Linked DNA regions of Homo sapiens. The protein of the gene in region 4 purifies or fractionates together with the protein of the main gene of each other region. This does not show direct contact. Each region holds a gene or a part of one and is shown on either strand. Other genes may lie near its edges.

Region 1 (5,123 bases), on a different chromosome or scaffold from region 4:
TTCCTCTTTTACTTCCTGGAGGTTTTTAGTAGTTTCAATCTGAAGTCTCACTCTCTCCATTCTTCTTCCCGAGTTTTCTCCTGGGATTCTTTCTGCTGCAGCCATAGGGCCTAACCCAGGGTCCGCAGAGAACCAGCTTTTACTTCCTTTGCCCTAGTGGAACCCATGAGAGTCAGAAGGTGCCCAAGTGTGGAAACCTGTGTGCTGCTCTCTGCTGGGAGTCTGTTAGTTTGATTTTTATATGATGCTTTTATATTTCAAATAAGAATACACACTAGTTTATCGTTATCCATTAAGAAGAATCACTTTGAGAATTCACTTTATACTTTTATTTTCTTTTGTACTGTTTTGAAACAGAAATGTAGGCATTAGACTTCCTGGGCGGCAGACAAACCAAAGAGCGGAAATTCATGTAAGTTATCAGATACGTTTAAGCCTCTCTTTTTTGAGCATTGAGTATGAAATTATCAAATAAACTAATTCTTTTTTTTTCTACCTATACATATAAGATATTTGAAGAGAGACGGGTTTAATAACAATTTTGAAAAATAGGAATTTTGTAGAAAAATTCTAAAAACTTATTTCAAATAGATGTCTACACAGGAGAATTGTATGTATAGTAGTGTTTCATACAGAGAATATAATCAGTACAGAGGGGATGTTTCAATTTCGAAGTACTTTTGAACTTTAGTAATGTCAGAGTTGAACATTTTCTGTAGCATGACTATCGACTTGTCTTTTCAAGGCAGCCTGCAAAGCCATTGAACAAGCAAAGACTCAAAACATCAATAAACTGGTTCTGTATACAGACAGTATGTTTACGATAAATGGTAAGCTTTCACATTTGATTTCTTCTGTTTTTCCAGTAACTGTGAAGGGAAATTGGTAGGAGGTGTTGTAACAGGGCAGGACCCAAATGGGAACGGGGGGATGACATTGGTTTGTCAGGTACCGAGCAAAGAGTGAGGATTTTGGAGTCTCCCTTCTGCTGCTCTGATGTTTTCCACATGCTTATTTCTTTGCCAGGCACTGGAGATGCAGTCAGAAGTGGAAGTGGCTCTTACTTCTAGTCTGTGTGTGTATAAGTCACTTAAGATGGCGTGTTGACTGCTTCTTTGGGAAATGCCCTGAATAGGAGCATGTAGGGGATGCTTACGAGGCTGGGGAAGGCTCCTGGGAGAAATGACATCTTAAGCTGACAGCTGTAGGTAGAATACAAGTTAGGGGAAAGGGAAGAGAGGAGGGTATTTCAGGCTGTGCCAAAGGCCAAAGCAACTAAGGCCAGCTAAGGAAGTGAAGAGTCAAGGATGGTGACTCAGAATACAAGTGGGATCAATTATAAGAGGTAAGACTAAGGAGGTGAAAAAGGCAGGACACTCAAGATTGACTCACCAGTGATCGTGCATTTTTGTAGGTATAACTAACTGGGTTCAAGGTTGGAAGAAAAATGGGTGGAAGACAAGTGCAGGGAAAGAGGTGATCAACAAAGAGGACTTTGTGGCACTGGAGAGGCTTACCCAGGGGATGGACATTCAGTGGGTGAGTATCTTAAATGTTCATGTCCTATGGCCATTATGACCAAATAAGCTAAGTTTACTAGAGATTAATGGTTTATGTAAGTGGTTTAATGACATAACAATTTCCATGATATTAATATCATAATGTATATTACAACGTATTTGAGGCTGGGCGTAGTGGCTCACGCCTATAATCCCAGCACTTTGGGAGGCTGAGGTGGGTGGATCACGAGGTCAGGAGTTCAAGACCAGCCTGGCCAGTATGGTGAAACCCCATCTTTATTAAAAAATACAAAAATTAGCCGGGCATGGTGGTGTGTGCCTGTAGTCCCAGCTACTCAGGAGGCTGAGGCAGGAGAATCACTTGAACCCAGGAGGCGGAAGTTGCAGTGAGCTGAGATCGCGCCACTGCACTCCAGCCTGAGCAACGATATGAGACTCCAAGACCCCGTCTCAAAAAAAAAAAAAAAATATGTGAGCCTGGGCTCAGTGGTTCACATCTGTAACCCAGCACTTTAGGAGGCCCAAATGGCCTGACTACTTAAGCCAAGAAGTTCGAGACCAGCCTGGATAACATGGGGAGACTCTGTTTCTCGAAAAAATAAAAAATTAGCCAGGGGTAGTGGCACATGCCTGTAGTCTAGTTACTCAGGACACTGAGGTGGGAGGATGACTTGAGCTGGGGAGGTCGAGGTTGCAGTGAGCCAAGATTGTACCACTGTACTCTAGCCTGGGCGACAGAGTGAGACCCTGTCTCAGAAAAACAAAACAAACCCACCCACATACACAAATTTGATTATTTTCCTTATCATACAAGTAATACAGTTTTTTGGTTTGGTTTTTGAGACAGGTCTCACTCTGTCACCCCAGGCTATGGCGTGATCTCATTGCAACCTCTGCCTTCTGGGTTCAAGTGATTCTCGTGCCTCAGCCTCCCAAGTATCTGGGATTACAGGCATATGCCACCACGCCTGGCTAATTTTTGTATTTTTAGTAGCGATGGAGTTTTGTCATGTTACCCAGGCTGGTCTTGAACTCTTGATCTCAAACATTCCACCTGCCTTGGCCTCTCAAAGTGCTGGGATTACATTTGTTTTGTGTCACTTCCTATATGTTTTTGTTTTATGACAAAAAGGTTTACAACTAAATCAATAATCATGTCAAACTTTTTTTTATTGTTTTGAGATGGAGTCTCGCACTGTTGCCCAGGCTGGAGTGCAGTGGCGCAATCTCGGCTCGCTGCAACCACAAGTAATACAATTCTAGTGAGAGTGTCACTAGGCATAGAATACACAGGCAGTGTGGTTTGAGGGATGTTCTACAATCCTTATATTTTGTTAAGAACACGAAGTAACACCCAACCTGGGCACATGGCATTACTATGACAGCTGTATGTCACCCTGTTCATTTCTTTGGAATGCATCATAATGTTAAATAAAACTATCAGTGTATTTTGTTTCAAACAATAGTAAGGTTGTATGATTAAAGCCTTGGTAATAGAACTTTTATTCCAAGATGGAAGCACTTTTTAAAATCATAGATCATGTTTATTAAAAAGTTTTTTTCAAGCAATAGAGAACAAATTACACTGCAGCCACTGTCTCAACCCTGCCTTGTTCTGCCTTCCTGGAACCACTGATAATAGTTTGGTAGCCTGATGTGTAAATTTGCTTTGGCAACATAAATGTAAACAGTGGTTAAATAAGTACATTATTTCTGACAGCACTGCAAGGGAAGCGTGTGTGTGTGTTGCATACATATCCGTCCACCCATCTGTACATACATGTGTTTTGCCTGGAAAGCTTATCAAGTCCCATTGATAAGTGGGGAGGAAATAGCAACATGAACGGTAAAATCCAATTTGTGAAAAAACAAAATGGAATGTTCGTAAATCACATCCATTGCGTAAACGCATGAAGAATGGACAGCGTGCTGTTGAGGATCATGTCTGGGGAGAGGAGCGTTGAAGTTGAGCTTATGCTGTGCAGTCTGTTCTGAATGGTTTTTTATGATGACAATATAGTCATGTGTTGCTTATGTAAAGATGAGTAAAAATAAAAGGAAAACATTTATCTTAACAGATGCATGTTCCTGGTCATTCGGGATTTATAGGCAATGAAGAAGCTGACAGATTAGCCAGAGAAGGAGCTAAACAATCGGAAGACTGAGCCATGTGACTTTAGTCCTTGGGAGAACTTGAGCCAGCGGCTGTCTTGCTGCCTGTACTTACTGGTGTGGAAAATAGCCTGCAGGTAGGACCATTGCAGTGATGGGCAGATGCGTCTTTCACACGGAATCAGGCACAGTGGCCTTCTGTGACATGTGTTTATAAAAAATGGTTAAGTATATAATAAATTGAACATCTTTGAGATTGGAGAATTATGTGAGATTTCCACATTATGTTTACTGGGTTCAATACTGTCCTTGCTTGTTTTATTGCAGGCAAGCAAGGCAAATGGCCTAAAATGCTGTGGCTTATATTTTGATAAGAAATCAAAAAACCATTGGTTAAAAGATGCAACTCAGAAGTCTGGAAGTATTCTGAAAGCATCCATTTACCGTCCAGTTGACAGGTTTGAGTCTCCTGCTTGTATAGGTGACTTGTGCCCATGGGTACATTAAAGGAACATGCTGCCCAGGGCCTGGGCGGACAGCTCAGTGGGCAGGATGTGTGCTGGGTCTCAGCCCCATGTGCCTGCTTGCTGGGCAGTTAGTATAGGGCAAAGCCTGCCTGCGGCGACCCTGGCTGCTAGGCCATTCTCTAGGAACAGCTGCGACTCATAAAGACCAAGAAGCATAAATAAACTTTCAAAAATTTATTTGGCTCTTTCGTTAAAAACTGTGCAAATTAAAAAAAAAAAAAAAAAAGTAAGACACCGGCTGGGCACAGTGGCTCACTTCTGTAATCCTAGCACTTTGGGAGGCCAAGGCGGGCAGATCACTTGAGGTCAGGAGTTTGAGACCAGCTTGGCCAACATGACGAAACCCTGTCTCTACTAAAATTACAAAAATTATCCAGGTGTGGTGGCACGGGCTTGTAGTCCCAGCTACTTGGGAGGCTGAGGCACAAGAATCACTTGAACCCAGGCGGCAGAGGTTGCAGTGAGCCAAGATTGCACCACTGCACTCCATCCTGGGCAACAGAGTGAGACTCTGTCTCAAAAAAAAAAAAAAGTAGTAAAAGTTTGACATGATTATTTATTTAGTTTTAAACCTTTTTATTATAAAAACATACAGGAAGTGACACAAAACAAATGTATAGCTTATTGAATGATTATGATTGTAAGGTGAATAACCTTTGTGTCCACCACCTGGTGAAGAAATAGTACTTTGCCAGATACCCCAGGAGGCTCTCCCAAGTGCCCCTCCAGCCACAGCCCTCTTCTTCTCCCCCTCCTTGCCCCAACAAGTAATCCTGACTTTTACAGAAATGACTTTCTTGGTTTTTTGATGGCAGTTTAGTCTTGTCTGCTTTTTTTTGTTTATTTTTTTATCTACTTCAGTGTCCATTTGCAGTCCCGTCGGCCTCACTGTTTTCCCTGCCGTTTATCTGTTGAAGAGCCTGGGCTGTTTGTCCCATGGCTTCCCACAGTGTAGATTTTGCTG
Region 2 (3,828 bases), on a different chromosome or scaffold from region 4:
ATCAAAGGCAAATAATTTTGAAAACGATTTGGGACAGGTACAGTTGTCCTCTGCTTACAATCTTCTCTCTTATCTCAGCCAATAGCTACTTGCTAACTGGATAGTAAAATGACATGAGCATGTATGAGTTTACAGCCTGATGTAATTATGTAATCAATAGCTGATTTACTTCACTCATTATATTTTGGTTAAAGTTGCTCTTGTCGCATGTTTGCATTCTTCCTTGTCAACGATGTCTGGGCATCAGAGGAGGAGGCAGGAAATGTACTTCACTAAAGACCACTGGGAATAAAGAGTGGCCATCAGTCTAGATTGCAGAGGGAAACAATCTCCATGTCAGTATATATATATGAATTACGTGACAGCAGGTCACAGAGAGAACAATGGACCATGAAAGCAAAGATTTGATTTCCATCTGTTAACTTACTCATCTGGGCAAGTTCCTTTTTTTTTTAAACAGGGTCTCACTCTGTCACCCAGGGTGGAGTATGCAGTGGCATGATCCCAGCTCACTGCAGCCTCAACATCCTGGACTCGGGTGATCCTACCACTTCAGTCTCCCAAGTAGCTGGGACTATAGGCATATACCTGGCTAATTTTTGTATTTTTGGTACAGATAGCGTTTCACCATGTTGCCCAGGCTGGTCTTGAACTCCTGGGCTCAAGTGATCATGTACCTCAGCCTCCCAAATTACTGGAATAACAGGTGTGAGCCACTGCACCCAGCTCCTTTTCTGATTTCTGATTCCTACATATAAAATGGGTAAAATATGGATAACACTTATCAAACATAGCCCAAAAGTTGTTTAAACAATGAAATAAAAATGGCTATGAAGCACGTCACATACTGAAACATACTTAAAAAAAAAAAGGCAATATGAAAGAAAACAAGCCACAGACCTTAAATATAAACACCTCCTCAAACACCACAAGAGACAAAAATTTGTAAAGTTAAGGAGGGTAACTTATAAAAGTACAACTTCCCAGTTTATATGAAAATGGTTTAATAATACTGAAACTTAAAAGCTGATAAAATTTATTGGCTACGACTACATTTTTTCTCCAATCACAGCAAATATTATGAGACACTTATCAATGCAAAGCTTTTGATCCTTTATCATGTACTCTGAACCCTATGCACTACTAAATAGGCAATATGATACAATCAAAGGTTTCTTTGGCAGACATAATTATATGTACCAAAACATTAAACTGCGTATTTTCCCTTAAACTTACCTGACTAAAGGCATCTGATCAAAAGACAAAAAGTGAACAATTTTAATAAGTAGTTGCATTTATCAATAAGAGTCTACAAGGTAACAAAAAGTGTAAAGAGACATCTTTTTGAAAATTCATATAAAACAAACCTTCCATGTTATTAGATCAACAAATATAATCACCTGGGTATATTTTATTAGGGAAAAATGACAATATTGATAATAAAAAGAGAAAGGAAAAATGAAAATGCATCTCAGACCAGAATACCATAACAAAACTTTTGTGGAAGCTGCATTTTATTTGAAAATCCACCCATTTTGCTAACATACATTTTAATATTGTAAACAAAAATAGAATCTGCAGAGACAATGCAACAAGAATGCTTAAACTCATGTACAGAATTGCTTTCCTACAATGAACTGTCCTTCTTAAGGCCCCTCTCCACCCAAATGTTAAAGATGTATTTACACAAAGCACCGATCAACAGTGCAGTTTAATTCTTCGTTTACTAAACTCTTGGCTAGACATTAACTTTAAAGATACTATTTCCCCTTATTTAAAAGGTATATGATCATAACATGGCACGAGCCAAAGAAAATGTTCAAGGACTTTGCCCCCCTTCCCTCCCCCTTGTAACACCTTCTAGAGTTTTAGTGAAAAGAAGGAAAGTCTTGAAGTGAAAGCAATTCCTCACATTCATTTTGGAAAGGCCCTAATGTCAAATGGAAAATAATGACATGCCAAGCACAAAGCAGTAAAGATCCTTCCCAATGCACTAATGCTGAATTTAAAATGTAGTGCTTTTCCTAGTCAGTGAACTGTTCCCTGGCAAAATCCTAGGCACAGAATTGACTATAAGGATTAATGCATTTATAATGCTTCCCTAAATCCCACAGAGGCCGAGAATTCTTAAGAGATTCAGACCTATGGACTTGCCTTAAAATATTTAGTGCTCTGTATGTCAGCTGAGAAAAGCATTCTGAATCAGATTCATTCTTGTGGATAAAAATCAAACATACTGTGCACATCCATACTCATTTTCATAAGGAGGTCTGATACAATATTAATGTTATGTAAAATTGATAATCATAAATAAATACAAATACTTAAGGAATGTCTACTGCAAACTGAATATAATTTTTTTTAAAAAAAGAAAAGTTAATTTCAGTTATTGTTTCTGTATTTGTGAGGACTGGAGAAAAGAAAGATAATGCATAATTAGGAATTTTAATTTTGATCCCCCAAAAGAGTCCTGTTGAAATACAGTAAAGGACACAGTTCTTCTCTCCAGGCAGCTTTTCCAAATACAAATTTCACACTTTCCAAATAAGGGCTTTTCTTGATAGGTTACTGATTATGGGTATTAACAGGAGTTGAAAGAATTGAAGGGTTAGTCACCAAAAAGACAGATCTTAGTCTTAAATCATAGCAATTCTTGGCTTTATAAACTGTATTGATACGTTCTCCTATAAACTAGTCCCAATTTCCTTCATGGGCCTTCACTGAGTTACTTGTAGCATTCTAATGGAAGAAGAGAGTTTAAGAGATTTAAGAGACAGCAGTTTGGATTTTGCTGGAAGTAAGGATTTTGCTGCTTGAGCACTTGTCTTTTTGGAGTAATTCCATTTTCTTCCATCAAGTTACATAAACTGTATCTGGAAAAAAAAAGTGGGTATGTTAATTCATTGTATTGTAGGATGTCTTCTCATAAATAAAAATGCTTTGTGGTCTTTACCATTTAACTGGCCCAGAAGTGTTCACAACATGCTTATCACAAACCCTGTTTATAAAACAAAGTCAGTATTATCAACTTATGTGCCAGAAAGCTCAATATTTGACACATATAGGGACTTCCAAATAATGTTTTTTGTTGTTGTTTTTGAGACAGAGTCTTGCTCTGCTGTCTAGGCTGGATTGCAGTGGCATGATCAAAGCTCAATGGCTGGGCACCATAGCTCACACCTGTAATCCCAGCACTCTGGGAGGCTGAGGTGGGCAGATCACCTGAGGTGAGTTCGAGAGTTCGAGACTGGCCTGGCCAATATGGTGAAACCCCGTCTCTACTAAAAATACAAAAATTAGCCAGGCGTGGTGGCGGGCGCCTGTAATCCTAGCTACTCGGGAGGCTGAGGCAGGAGAATGGCTTGAACCCAGGAGGTGGAGGTTGCAGTGAGCTGAGATCGTGCCACTGCACTCCAGCCTGGGAGACAAGAGCGAAACTCCATCTCAAAAAAAAAAAAAAAAAAAAAAAGCTCATTGGAACTCCTGGGCTCAAGCAACCCTCCTGCCTCAGCCTCCTGAATAGCTAGGACTGCAGACAGTCGCCACCACACCTGGGTAATTTTTGGGTGGGGGTAGAGACTAGGGTCTCACCGTATTGCCCAGGCTGATCTTGAACTACTAGCCCCAAGTGATCCTCCCGCATCAGCCTCCCAGGGTGCTGGGATTACAGGCATAAGCAACCACATCCAGGCCAAATACTTAACTGCTAAAAATAGAGGAATAGCATGTGGAGGAGGAAAAGAAAGAAGATCAATGACCTATTTTTTCATGACAAGTTCAGAAAAATCTCTCCATAAGCACAAATACCACAAGCAAAATCTCATTTGG
Region 3 (5,123 bases), on a different chromosome or scaffold from region 4:
CTAATATAGAGAATTGGTACCAGGATAGTGAGGTACTGCTATAAAGATAATCTGAAAATGTCAAAGCAACTTTGGAACTGGGTAACGGGCAGAGGCTGGAACAGTGTGAGGGCTCAGAAGAAGACAGGAAGATGTGGGAAAGTTTGGAAATTCTTAAAGACTTCTTAAATGGTTCTGAACAAAATGCTAATAGTGATATGAACAATGAAGTTCAGGCTGAGGTGGTCTCAAATAGAGATGACGAACTTACTGGGAACTGGAGTAAAGGTCATTCATGCAATGCTTTAGCAAAGAGACTGGTGGCATTTTGCCCCTGCCCTAGAGATCCGTGGAAGCTTGAATTTGAGAGAGATGATTTAGAGTGTCTGGTGAAAGAGATTTCTAAGCACCAAAGCATTCAAGAAGTGACCCGGTTGTTTCTAAAAGTGTATAGTCACATGCATTCATGAAGAGATTATTTGAATTTGGAACTTATATTTAAAAGGGAAGCACAGCATAAAAGTTCAGAAAATTTGCAACCTAACCATGAGGTAGAAAAGAAAAACCTATTTCTTGGGGGGAAATTCAAACCTGCTGCAGAAATTTGTATAAGTAACAAGGAGCCAAATATTAATAGCCAAAACAATGGGAAAAATGTATCCAAGGCATGTCAGAGACATTTGCAGAAGCCCCTCCCATCACAGGCCCAGCGGCCTAGGAGGGAAAAATGGTTTTGTGGGCCTGAGTGGCCCTGCTGCTCTGTGCAGCCTCAAGACATGGTGCCCTGCATCCAGCTGCTCTAGCTCCAGCCATGGCTAAAAGGAGCCAAGGTACAGCTCAAGCCATTGCTTCTGAGGGTGCAAGCCCTAAACCTTGGCAGCTTCCATGTGGTGTTGGGTCTGTGGGTACACAGAAGACAAGAAGAGTTTAGAAGACAAGAGTTTAACCTCCACCTAAATTTCAGAGGATGTATGGAAACACCTGAATGTCCAGGCAGAAGTCTGCTGCAAGGGAGGAGCCCTCATGGAGAACCTTTGCTAGGGCAGTACAGAAGGAAAATGTGGGGTTGAAGGCCCCACACAGTCCCCACTGGGGCACTGCCTACTGGAGTTGTGAGGAGAGAGCCACTGTCCCCCAGGCCCCAGAAAGGTAGATTCACTGACAGCTTGTATTGTACAGCTGGAAAAGCCACAGGCACTCAATGCCAGCCAGTGAAAGCAGCCATAAGGACTGCACCTTTCAGAGCTACAAGGGTAGAGCTGCCCAAGGCCATGGGAGCCTACCCCTTGGATGTGAGATATGGAGTCAAAGGAGATCATTTCAGAGCTTTAAGATTTAGTAACTGCACTGCTGGGTTTCAGACTTGCATGGGGCCTGTGGCCCCTTTGTTTTGGCCAATTTCTCCCATTTGAAACATTTAGCTAATGCCTATAGCCCTACTGTATCTTAGAAGTAACTAACTTGTTTTTTATTTTATAGGCTCATAGGCAAAAGGGACTTGCCTTGTCTCAGATGAGACTTTGGACTTGGACTTTTGGGTTAATGCTGGAATAAGTTAAGACTTTGGGGGACTGTTGGAAAGTCATGATTGGTTTTGAAATGTGAAAAAGACATGAAATTTGGGAGGCGCCAGGAGTGGAATGATATGGTTTGGCTTTATATCCCCACCCAAATCTCATCTTGAATTGTAATCCCCATGTGTCCAGGGAGGAACCCGGTAGGAAGTGATCGGATCATGGGGGCAGTTTCCCCCATGCTGTTCTTGTGATAGTGAGGGAGTTCTCAAAAGATCTGATGGCTTTAAAAGTGGCAGTTTCCCCTGCTTTCTCTCTCTCTCTTTCTCTCTCTCCTGCTGCCTTGTGAAGAAGGTTATCTACTTCCCCTTCACCTTCTGCCATAATTTTAAGTTTCCTGAGGCCTCCCCAGTCATGTGGAACTGTGAGTCAATTAAACCTCTTTCCTTTATAAATTACCCACTCTCAGGTATTTCTTTATAACAATGTGAAAACAGACTAATACAATACCTATCATTATTGACTTCTCAGCTTCTATCATTATCAAAAAGTAAATAATTGATTCATTTTTTAAAGTAAACAAGATTTTAACTCTTGAAATGTATAAGCAAATACATTTCCTCCATAACAGAATACTAATAGTTGTATACTTAGGTCAAAAATAAGTTTTTATAAGCAATGCTCAAAAACCTCAATGGATCAAATATGTTATAAAAATTCAGCAAATTGATAAACCTTGTTATTTGACTATGAGAACAAATTTTAACTCATTTTTAAATTGTGATAAGCCAACTCATTAGTCTGAAAATTAGAAATTAATATATTACATTGATTTATGTCATCTTTAAAGTCACTTTAACTCACTCTCAGTAGCACAGTGTTTTAAGTCAGAAAGCAGTGAAATAAAATTGTCAATTCACTCTTATTTTTCTATTCTCACTGAACTTTTAAAAATTTTTATTATATATTCAGCAGCATTAGAATAAGCAAAGCCAAAGGCATTTTATGGGACTCAAAAGACATAATGACCTCTGCAGACACCAGTTAAACAATAGACAGAAGAATTTGATTCCTACTTCGATGCTAGGTTTAGCAACCATTCACACAGATAATGTCCATGTTTTTCTTTCTTTTCATTTCACCAAGACCTTCACTCCTCAAAGCCTAAAATATATCTAAATCTTGGATTTCTCTTTTTTGCTTCATCTGACAACTTGAAAATTGACTGTTGGACACATAGCCATCAAGTGGTAAAGTGGGTAACTGGAAAAGTTCTAACTTGTTTTACATTTTTCAAACCCTATTATAATAAGAGCAAATAATAATACTAGCTCATATTTATTCAATGCTGGTCTGTGATACAGACTACTAATAAACTTAGTTTGCAAATAAAAACACTCAAGTTTAGGAAAAATATGTGACATACGCAAGGTCTCACAACAGGTAACTTACAAAGCTGGGATTCAAATCCAAGATTGACTAAAACCATGCTATACGTCTTTATTATATACTCTCTTCCACAGAAGAAAATGACCCATTAGTTGCTCTTCTATTTCACAACACAGCTTCCCTGAACATACTGGTGGAAAAAAAAAAAACAGAAATTGGCTATGTTCATTATCAACTTTTTTTTTTAATAACTTTCTTTTAAGACAGGGTCTCACTCTGTTGTCCAGGCTGGAGTGCAATGGCACGAACTCAGCTCACTGCAACCTCCACCTCCCATGCTCAAATGATTCTTGTGCCTCAGCCACCAAATAGCTGGGACTACAGGTGTGCACCACCACACCCAGCTAATTTTTTTATTTTTAGTAGAGGCGGGGTTTTCGCCATGTTGGCCAGGCTGGTCCCAAACTCCTGGCCTTCAGTGATCTGCCCACCTCGACCTTCCAAAGTGTTAGGATTACAGGCATGACTCACTGCACTCAGCCTCATTTATTAATTTATTCAACAAATATTTACTAGCTCCTTAAAACTCTCATTTGAGCTTAAATCCTTTTAAGTATTTTTGAGTATCTGGCATATGCAATGGACTGAATATATCCCCACAAAACCCACATGTTGAAATCTTAACCCCCCAGTGTAATGGTTTTAGGACGTAGGGCCTCTGGGGGGTAATTAGGTCATGAATGTAGAGCCCTCATGAATGGGATTAGTGCTCTTATAAAAGGGATTTCCCAAACCTCTCTCATTCTCTTTCCACCACCTGCAGATACAATGAAAAGACAGCAGTAGTCTTTGACCTAAAAGAGGGCCCTCATCAGAACCCAAACATGTGGGCACCCTGACCTTGGACTTCCAACCTCCAGAATAGTAAGAAATAAATTTCTGTTCTTTATAAGGCACCCAGTCTATAATACTTTGTTACAGCAGCCTGAACAGACTGAGGCAGAAACTGGTGCCAAGAATTAGGGGTGCTGCTGTAACAAATACCTAAAAAGGTTATCTTCATTTATTTTTCACATAACCAAGCAAAATATGTGAAACAGTAAACTCTGACTGTTGAAGCCATTTAATTGTTTTCTATTACACTAACATTCAAGGCATCCTGATACAAACGCTTACCAAAAAGTGCATTTGAAAAGAAAACGAGGAAGTCTAACTAGAATAGCAGTACGCAAAACAAATTTAAAAAATTAAAAAACAGAAGTGTGTCTTCGGTTCAAGAAATCAGCTGCAAAATCACAGAATGATGTAAAACTGGTTTAATAGCAGTTCAAATAACAAAAGAGGTAAGTGTGTTACTAGCAGACTCAAAGTAACCTAACACTAAGACATGGCTGAGAACAATGTATAGCCACTTTAGGTAATATTATTAGAGCTAGGGGCTCAAGACTATGGTGGTAAAATCTTATAAAGCTTAGCCCTTCATCACATTTCTGGAATAAATTAGGTATATGTTGAAAGGGGAGTTGAAAAACAGGATTATCAAAGGAGGCTATCAGAAGGATGAAAGACGTACAGATCATGTCATCTGAGGACAGGACAATGAAATGACAAGTGCACAGTCTGGAAGAGAGCACGATGGCTATTTTCAAGAGGTTTCCTGGACAAGAGGGGCTGGACCTGGTCTTGCCACTTCAGAGAAAGACACTAAAAGCAGCAGTTGGTTGCTATAGAAGGTAGAGTTGGGATTACAAGAAGCAGTTTCTTAATAATCAGAACAACCTAAAAGTCAAATAAGTTATCTCAAGAGAAAGTGAAATTTACTTTCACTGACAGGAAGTAAAGACTGAGTGAGCATCCATCCAGGATATCCTAGAACAGTATTTTCCAGAGAGTAGTTACACCAGAGATTATTTTAACTGGTACATACATTTATTTTATTCATTACTTACTTATCTCAATGTACACTAAAAACAAATAAATGTACATACTAAAGTAGCCATCAACCCCATTGTTTCATGAATATTACTGTTTTAGGATAAATGAAGCAACGACTTTACTTGATTGAAAGAAAAACATTAAGTCAATATATTGAATTTACCTTAACTAGCTATATTATTTTATGATGTCAGTTATCATCCTTGAATTTATATAGATAATAAAAGGCACCAAAGATTTAAGAAAAAGGAAAAAAAAAACTTCTGAAAAGAAAAATATTTTTTAAAAAAGAAAGAAGGAAAAGAA
Region 4 (5,496 bases):
TCAATGGAGAAAGTCACTGCAGACGTGGTGGAAATAGGAGAACTAGAATTAGAAGTGGAGCCTGCAGATGTGACTGAATTACTACAATCTTGTGCTAAACTTGAAGGGATGAGGAGTTGCTTCTTATGGATGAGCAAAGAAAGTGGTTTCTTGAGATGGATCTACTCCTGGTGAAATGACAGAAAGGATTTAGAATATTACACAAACTTAGTTGATAAAGTAGCATCAGGGTTTGAGAGGATTGCCTCCGTTTTTGAAAGAAGTTCTACTGTGGGTAAAATGCTATCAAACAGTAGCACATAAATCTTCTGTGAAAGGATGAGTAAATCAATGCAGTAAACTTAAACTTCATTACTGTCCTATTTTAAGAAATTGTCATAGCCACCCAACCTTCAGCAACCGCCACCCTGGTCAATCACCATTCATCAACCTCAAGGCAAGACCTTCCACCAGCAAAAAAGGACTATATGACTCACTGAAGGCTCAGATAATTGTTAGCTTTTTTAGCAATAGAGCATTTTAAAATTAAGATACGTATATTGTTTAGACATAATGCTAATGCACACTTAATAGACTATGGCATAGTATAAACGTAATTTTTATATGTACTGGGAAACCAAAAAATTTGTGTGACTTGTTGTGGTTGTCTGGAACTGAACCCACAATATCTCCAAGGTATGCTTGTGTGGTATCTAGGTATATGTATTCTTTTTCTTTTTTTTTTTCTATTTGAGACGAAGTCTCACTCTGTTGCCCAGGCTGGAGTGCAATGGTGCTATCTCAGCTGACTGCCATCTCCACCTCCCGGGTTCAAGCGATTCTCCTGCCTCAGCCTCCTGAGTAGCTGGGCTTACAGACACGCACCACCACGCCCGACTAATTTTTTTTATTTTTAGTAGAAACTGGGTTTCACCATGTTAGCCAGGCTGGTCTCGAACTCCTGACCTCAGGTGATCTGCCCTCCTCGGCCTCCCAAAATGCTGGGATTAAAGGCATGAGCTATCGCGCCTGGCCGTATTCTTACTTTTTAATCAGGAAAAACAAACAAACAAACAAACAAACAAAAACCAACCCTCAACTGGGAGAAAATAAGCACTGCAGAAATCTGAAAGTTAGCTGGTCTAAAAATTATTTTCTGTAGTTGAGAACATAGACTTTCTAAAGTTGAGATCTCAAATAAGAGAAGGATGACAGTTTGCTTTTCCAATGACTTAACTAGTTTTTATATATAAATCCATATATTAAAATCTTAAAGCAGGAAGATGTATTTGGAAATCTATTATCAATGGGAAAATCCTCTCTTCGTGATGCATATATGCACTGCCAGTGTATTATTAACAATGAGAAAATTCTCACTGTTCTCATTTAAGAAGTTGGTAAATTAACATAAATTAATGGTGAACGAAATTTTACCGGCTCATATAAATAAACCCAAGTGCGCACACACACACACACGCACACACATACACACACACACATGGTCTGGCCCATTCTTCTCAACCAAAAGGCCAGGAATAAAAATGAACAAGATAAGGATTTTCATCTAAGTTAGGTTTTTACTCATTTTCAGTGAGAGTGAATATTCTAGTAATTTTGCCTCTTACCTGAGACATATGCTTTATTAAGAGAAAGAGAAGGAAGGTGTTATTGGACCGTGAAACGTTTTTCCTTCTCTCTTGGGTGTCTACATTTACCATACCTTAGCCATGAGTGTTGTTCCAAATCCACCCTGATAGTTATTAGCCGAGGGAACGCCATCCATCACTCCAGGTACAGGATTATAAGTGTCACTTGACCAACACCGTCCTGAGCTCATATTTAGGATTTTAGCCAGTAGTTTTGGGTCAAGCCCTAACCTGTCAAAGGTCAAAGAAAAGAAGTGTTAAGTGTCAAAATGTACACGTCGTGCGTGACTTATTTATGTATGGGGATGCTCCATCTTCTCTCTCCATTTATTATATGTCTTCTAAAATCTAAGCAGGTTGATACGAGAGTGAAGAATCCAATTTTGAATTATAGAGTACTAAACACTACTGGTTAAATAAGAATATTTTTGAGCCAGGACCATTTTGCATTTGGAGAAAACCTTCTATGTTATCCTATTATTAAGAAAAAATAATATACAATTGCATAAAAATATTGTTGGTTTATCACACTCATGGGTTTTCTAGTCTTTGGACATTACTACATTTATATGTCACATAAGAACCTTAAAACAATATGATAATTTAAATTCTACATTCTTTACCCACAAATGATATATTTCAGAAAGAAATACTGACAGATAAACGATGCATCATGGGAGTCTGTGTGAATGCATTTATATGTATGTTTATTCCTTTAGTTTTTATGAGAATAAATGCAAGAGATGAGCCAGGAGCTGTAAACGAGCTTAAGAAAAGTTATTATAAAAGAAGACTTTTTGCTGCAAACTTTTCCTTATTTATTAAATCTTTATTAGACAATCTTGCTTATGAAGCAAGTCTGCACAGAGTTGTGACATATGCTATCTATTCAGAGACATGCATTATAGTTCTGGGTCAACTGCTGATAAGGTTACTGATCCTGATAAAACAAAGCTTGCCCAAGCAGAAACATCATTTGTTCTATCACTGGGCTGATGGCATAAACGGCTGTTCAATGTGGACCCTAGAAAAAATAATAGAATCAAAATGCTCCATTACTTGGATTCTAAAGATATAATGCAGTTTGGGAAGCACAATTTTGCTAGGTATCACTGAATCAAGTTTCAAATAAAACTTTATTCCTAGCAATTTATTTGGTTTCTTTCATACACAGAGCCATTATGAAACAATTGTCATAAAAGCTTTCCACTTTTTCTTAAAACCAACCTCTTCCAGAAAATAAAAAAAACACTGAAAAGAGACACTTATGTAAATGTTAAACAAACTGTGCATCTTGGCACGCTCAGATTGTTTACTCTGTGTGTCTAAAACACATGCCTGTTTATTTCAAAATCTGAATATCATGGCCAATAAAACATTTTTTCAGATGCTAGAGCAGGGGGCTGAGGCTAACAGCCAAAAATATGTATGGAATTACCACATAATACAACTGTTATGTAATCAGGCTTTCAAGGGGTAGCTGTGGTTCCCAGACTGCTATGTGGCATATCATGTATCTGAATTCATATGGTGGCCCATGTTATAGTGATGGATTTTACTAAGGATTGTAACAGATACAGAAATTCAGTCTAAATTGGCTATCATTCATTCTGTTCAACTGTAGATTCCCAGAGAGAAACCCAACAGTTTCATTCATTCTTTTATAAAGATCCAAGTTCACTGCATGCATAGTATGCTACTGATGCTTGCTTTCTCCTTTTAAATAAGATTAGGCTATCAGTATGCTACTGTAGTATATCACTTAGGAAAAGATAAAGCCAGTGTGCTTAGGGAATAATTGTGAAAAGTAAAATCACAATTAACAATTAGTTAATTTGCTATAACTGCAAAGTACCAAATGTTCAAGAATGCATACATCTAATATGCTCCATAAGGAGAAAATACTTTTAAAGACTCCAAAACGTCACTTTCTCTCTCCATTTGAAATATAATTTCAGGGCTTCCTAACTTAGATCTTTTAAGATGGTTCATCATATTTAAAGCAGCAGAATTCCTTCCTTCTTTCTAATCTACCAGGTTACACTCAGTAGTAGCTCACAAGAGCTTTTACAGCTAAGGAAATTCACTCTTTTCTATAATATTCAACAAAATGGTGAGCAAAGCTAATTATCCTAACTTTGTAAAACCCTACATTTTTCTTGAATGTTCAAGGAAAAGTACTGGTATTGATTGATGGAAACCCTTTCTGGTGAACACATTACTATTTAGAAGCATCCTGAGGGGCACACACAAAAAATCAGGTGGCAGTTGTTTCATTCTCACTTTTCAAATCTGATGCTTCCCCACCGTGCTGATTCCCTTCAGGAGATAGTTATTCCCTCTCCACTTCCCTCCCCCTGCCCCCACCCGCAGCAAAGTGTATCATTAAAAAGAGCAAGTTAGAAGTGTTTTGCATTTCATCTTTCTGAGGATTCGTTCTCTGGCACATACATAACTGACAGTTAAAATTAGACATGATATTAAAATCAGTTACTGAAGTCCTCTGTTTTCCACTGTGCCCAAGGCTTGTAATGGTCTGAAACCAGCTAGAATACACAGTAATTGTCATTCAGAGTCTATCCTAGAACGTCATGCTTCACTGGAGAAGACTGAGTTTCCATTCGAAATCAACAAATTAATCCAAGACAGGTATCTGAAAGGGCAAGTTTAATAGGAAGCAGCTACTGGGCTCTCAACCATGATAAAATGTTATTGCTGTTTCCCTGTAAATTGGCTGGGAACATATGATACTTTCTGCATAAGAGCCCCATTGCTGTTCAGAAGATATACAGCTCAAGCCATCAAAAGAATGACAGTCTGTCAGTCCCCATAATAACTTGCCACTGGATGTGGTTCGAGAGTGCATGCGTGCATGCATGTGGCTTTACAATTGCTGGAATGTTCTCTGATATAAACAGAATGAATTCATCGCTCTGACTGCATATATAATGCGTCTCAAATAAACGTCACTGTGTCAAATCTACTCACCTCTAAAACAAGAATTTTAAATGAGGTTTGGAAGAAGTAAAAATAATGCATAAACTGCAAAAAAATTTAAAAAATTAAACATTTGCCTTCACTGTAACCAAGACTTTAAGGGCCAAAAATGTTTGTTTATATTATCTGTGAGTAATCTATACTGTCTGGTTTCACGTAAGAACGAAATAAATTATGTCACTAAACTGGGATGTTTGTATCACAGGAACAGATCTGGAAATGAAACATCTAAGACCATGTCAGTTTTAATTAATCAATCACTTATCCATCAATGTTTACTCAGATCTGCTATATCCAAGTGCTACACGTGCAGCGAAGGAGACAGTAAGAAGGAAGCTAAGAGGAGGCTGTGCCTGTCTGCCAGGAGGGCTGAGTTAAGACCCACCTGGATAACTTTTACCTTTGGCAAGAGAAGTGCCATATCTTATCCCCTCACTCACTCACTCCCCTACCTCCTCCCTCCTCTCCTTATTTATCTGACAAATCTTCACTGGGTGCCTAATACCTGCCAGGTATATTCTTAAGATATGGCAATGAGTAAACAAACCATTTCCCATCATGGAGCTTCTAGATGGGAAGACAGGTAATAAACAGACAAATAAATATGTAATGCCAGCTAGTGAGACATGTTAGGAAGAAAAAGATTAAAGTACAATTTAATTTCAAACAATAACCACCTCACCACAACCACAAATATCATTACCACATATCGACACCTACTATGTGCCAGAAACTATTTAATAAGTTTTATATGGATTAACTCACTTAATCTTCACAACAACCCAGTGGATAGATGTAATCACTTTTGTCATTTTATAAATGAGAAAAGCTTAAGTCTGTGGGACAGCTTGAATGCAGACCTACATGTATGCCC

What was found. Proteins that work in one complex are often made in the same cells at the same time.
Region 1: the proteins of HIBADH (region 4) and RNASEH1 purify together in Homo sapiens (affinity purification with mass spectrometry; one large-scale study listed by BioGRID and IntAct). This does not show direct contact.
Region 2: the proteins of HIBADH (region 4) and PICALM fractionate together in Homo sapiens (co-fractionation; one large-scale study listed by BioGRID). This does not show direct contact.
Region 3: the proteins of HIBADH (region 4) and PEX7 purify together in Homo sapiens (co-immunoprecipitation; one large-scale study listed by IntAct). This does not show direct contact.

The regions. Positions count from the first base shown.
Region 1 is NC_000002.12:3,544,347-3,549,469, reverse strand, and holds part of RNASEH1 (ribonuclease H1 isoform 1 precursor), read left to right. Parts: intron 1-357; coding exon 358-412; intron 413-745; coding exon 746-830; intron 831-1,414; coding exon 1,415-1,539; intron 1,540-3,578; coding exon of another isoform or gene 3,579-3,598; coding exon 3,599-3,685; 3' UTR 3,686-5,123. UniProt on the Homo sapiens protein: Endonuclease that specifically degrades the RNA of RNA-DNA hybrids.
Region 2 is NC_000011.10:85,956,188-85,960,015, forward strand, and holds the end of PICALM (phosphatidylinositol-binding clathrin assembly protein), read right to left. Parts: intron 2,874-3,828; coding exon 2,859-2,873; 3' UTR 988-2,858; downstream 1-987. UniProt on the Homo sapiens protein: Cytoplasmic adapter protein that plays a critical role in clathrin-mediated endocytosis which is important in processes such as internalization of cell receptors, synaptic transmission or removal of apoptotic cells.
Region 3 is NC_000006.12:136,827,956-136,833,078, reverse strand, and holds part of PEX7 (peroxisomal biogenesis factor 7), read right to left. Parts: intron 1-5,123. UniProt on the Homo sapiens protein: Receptor required for the peroxisomal import of proteins containing a C-terminal PTS2-type peroxisomal targeting signal. Specifically binds to cargo proteins containing a PTS2 peroxisomal targeting signal in the cytosol.
Region 4 is NC_000007.14:27,529,493-27,534,988, forward strand, and holds part of HIBADH (3-hydroxyisobutyrate dehydrogenase, mitochondrial isoform 1 precursor), read right to left. Parts: intron 1,857-5,496; coding exon 1,700-1,856; intron 1-1,699.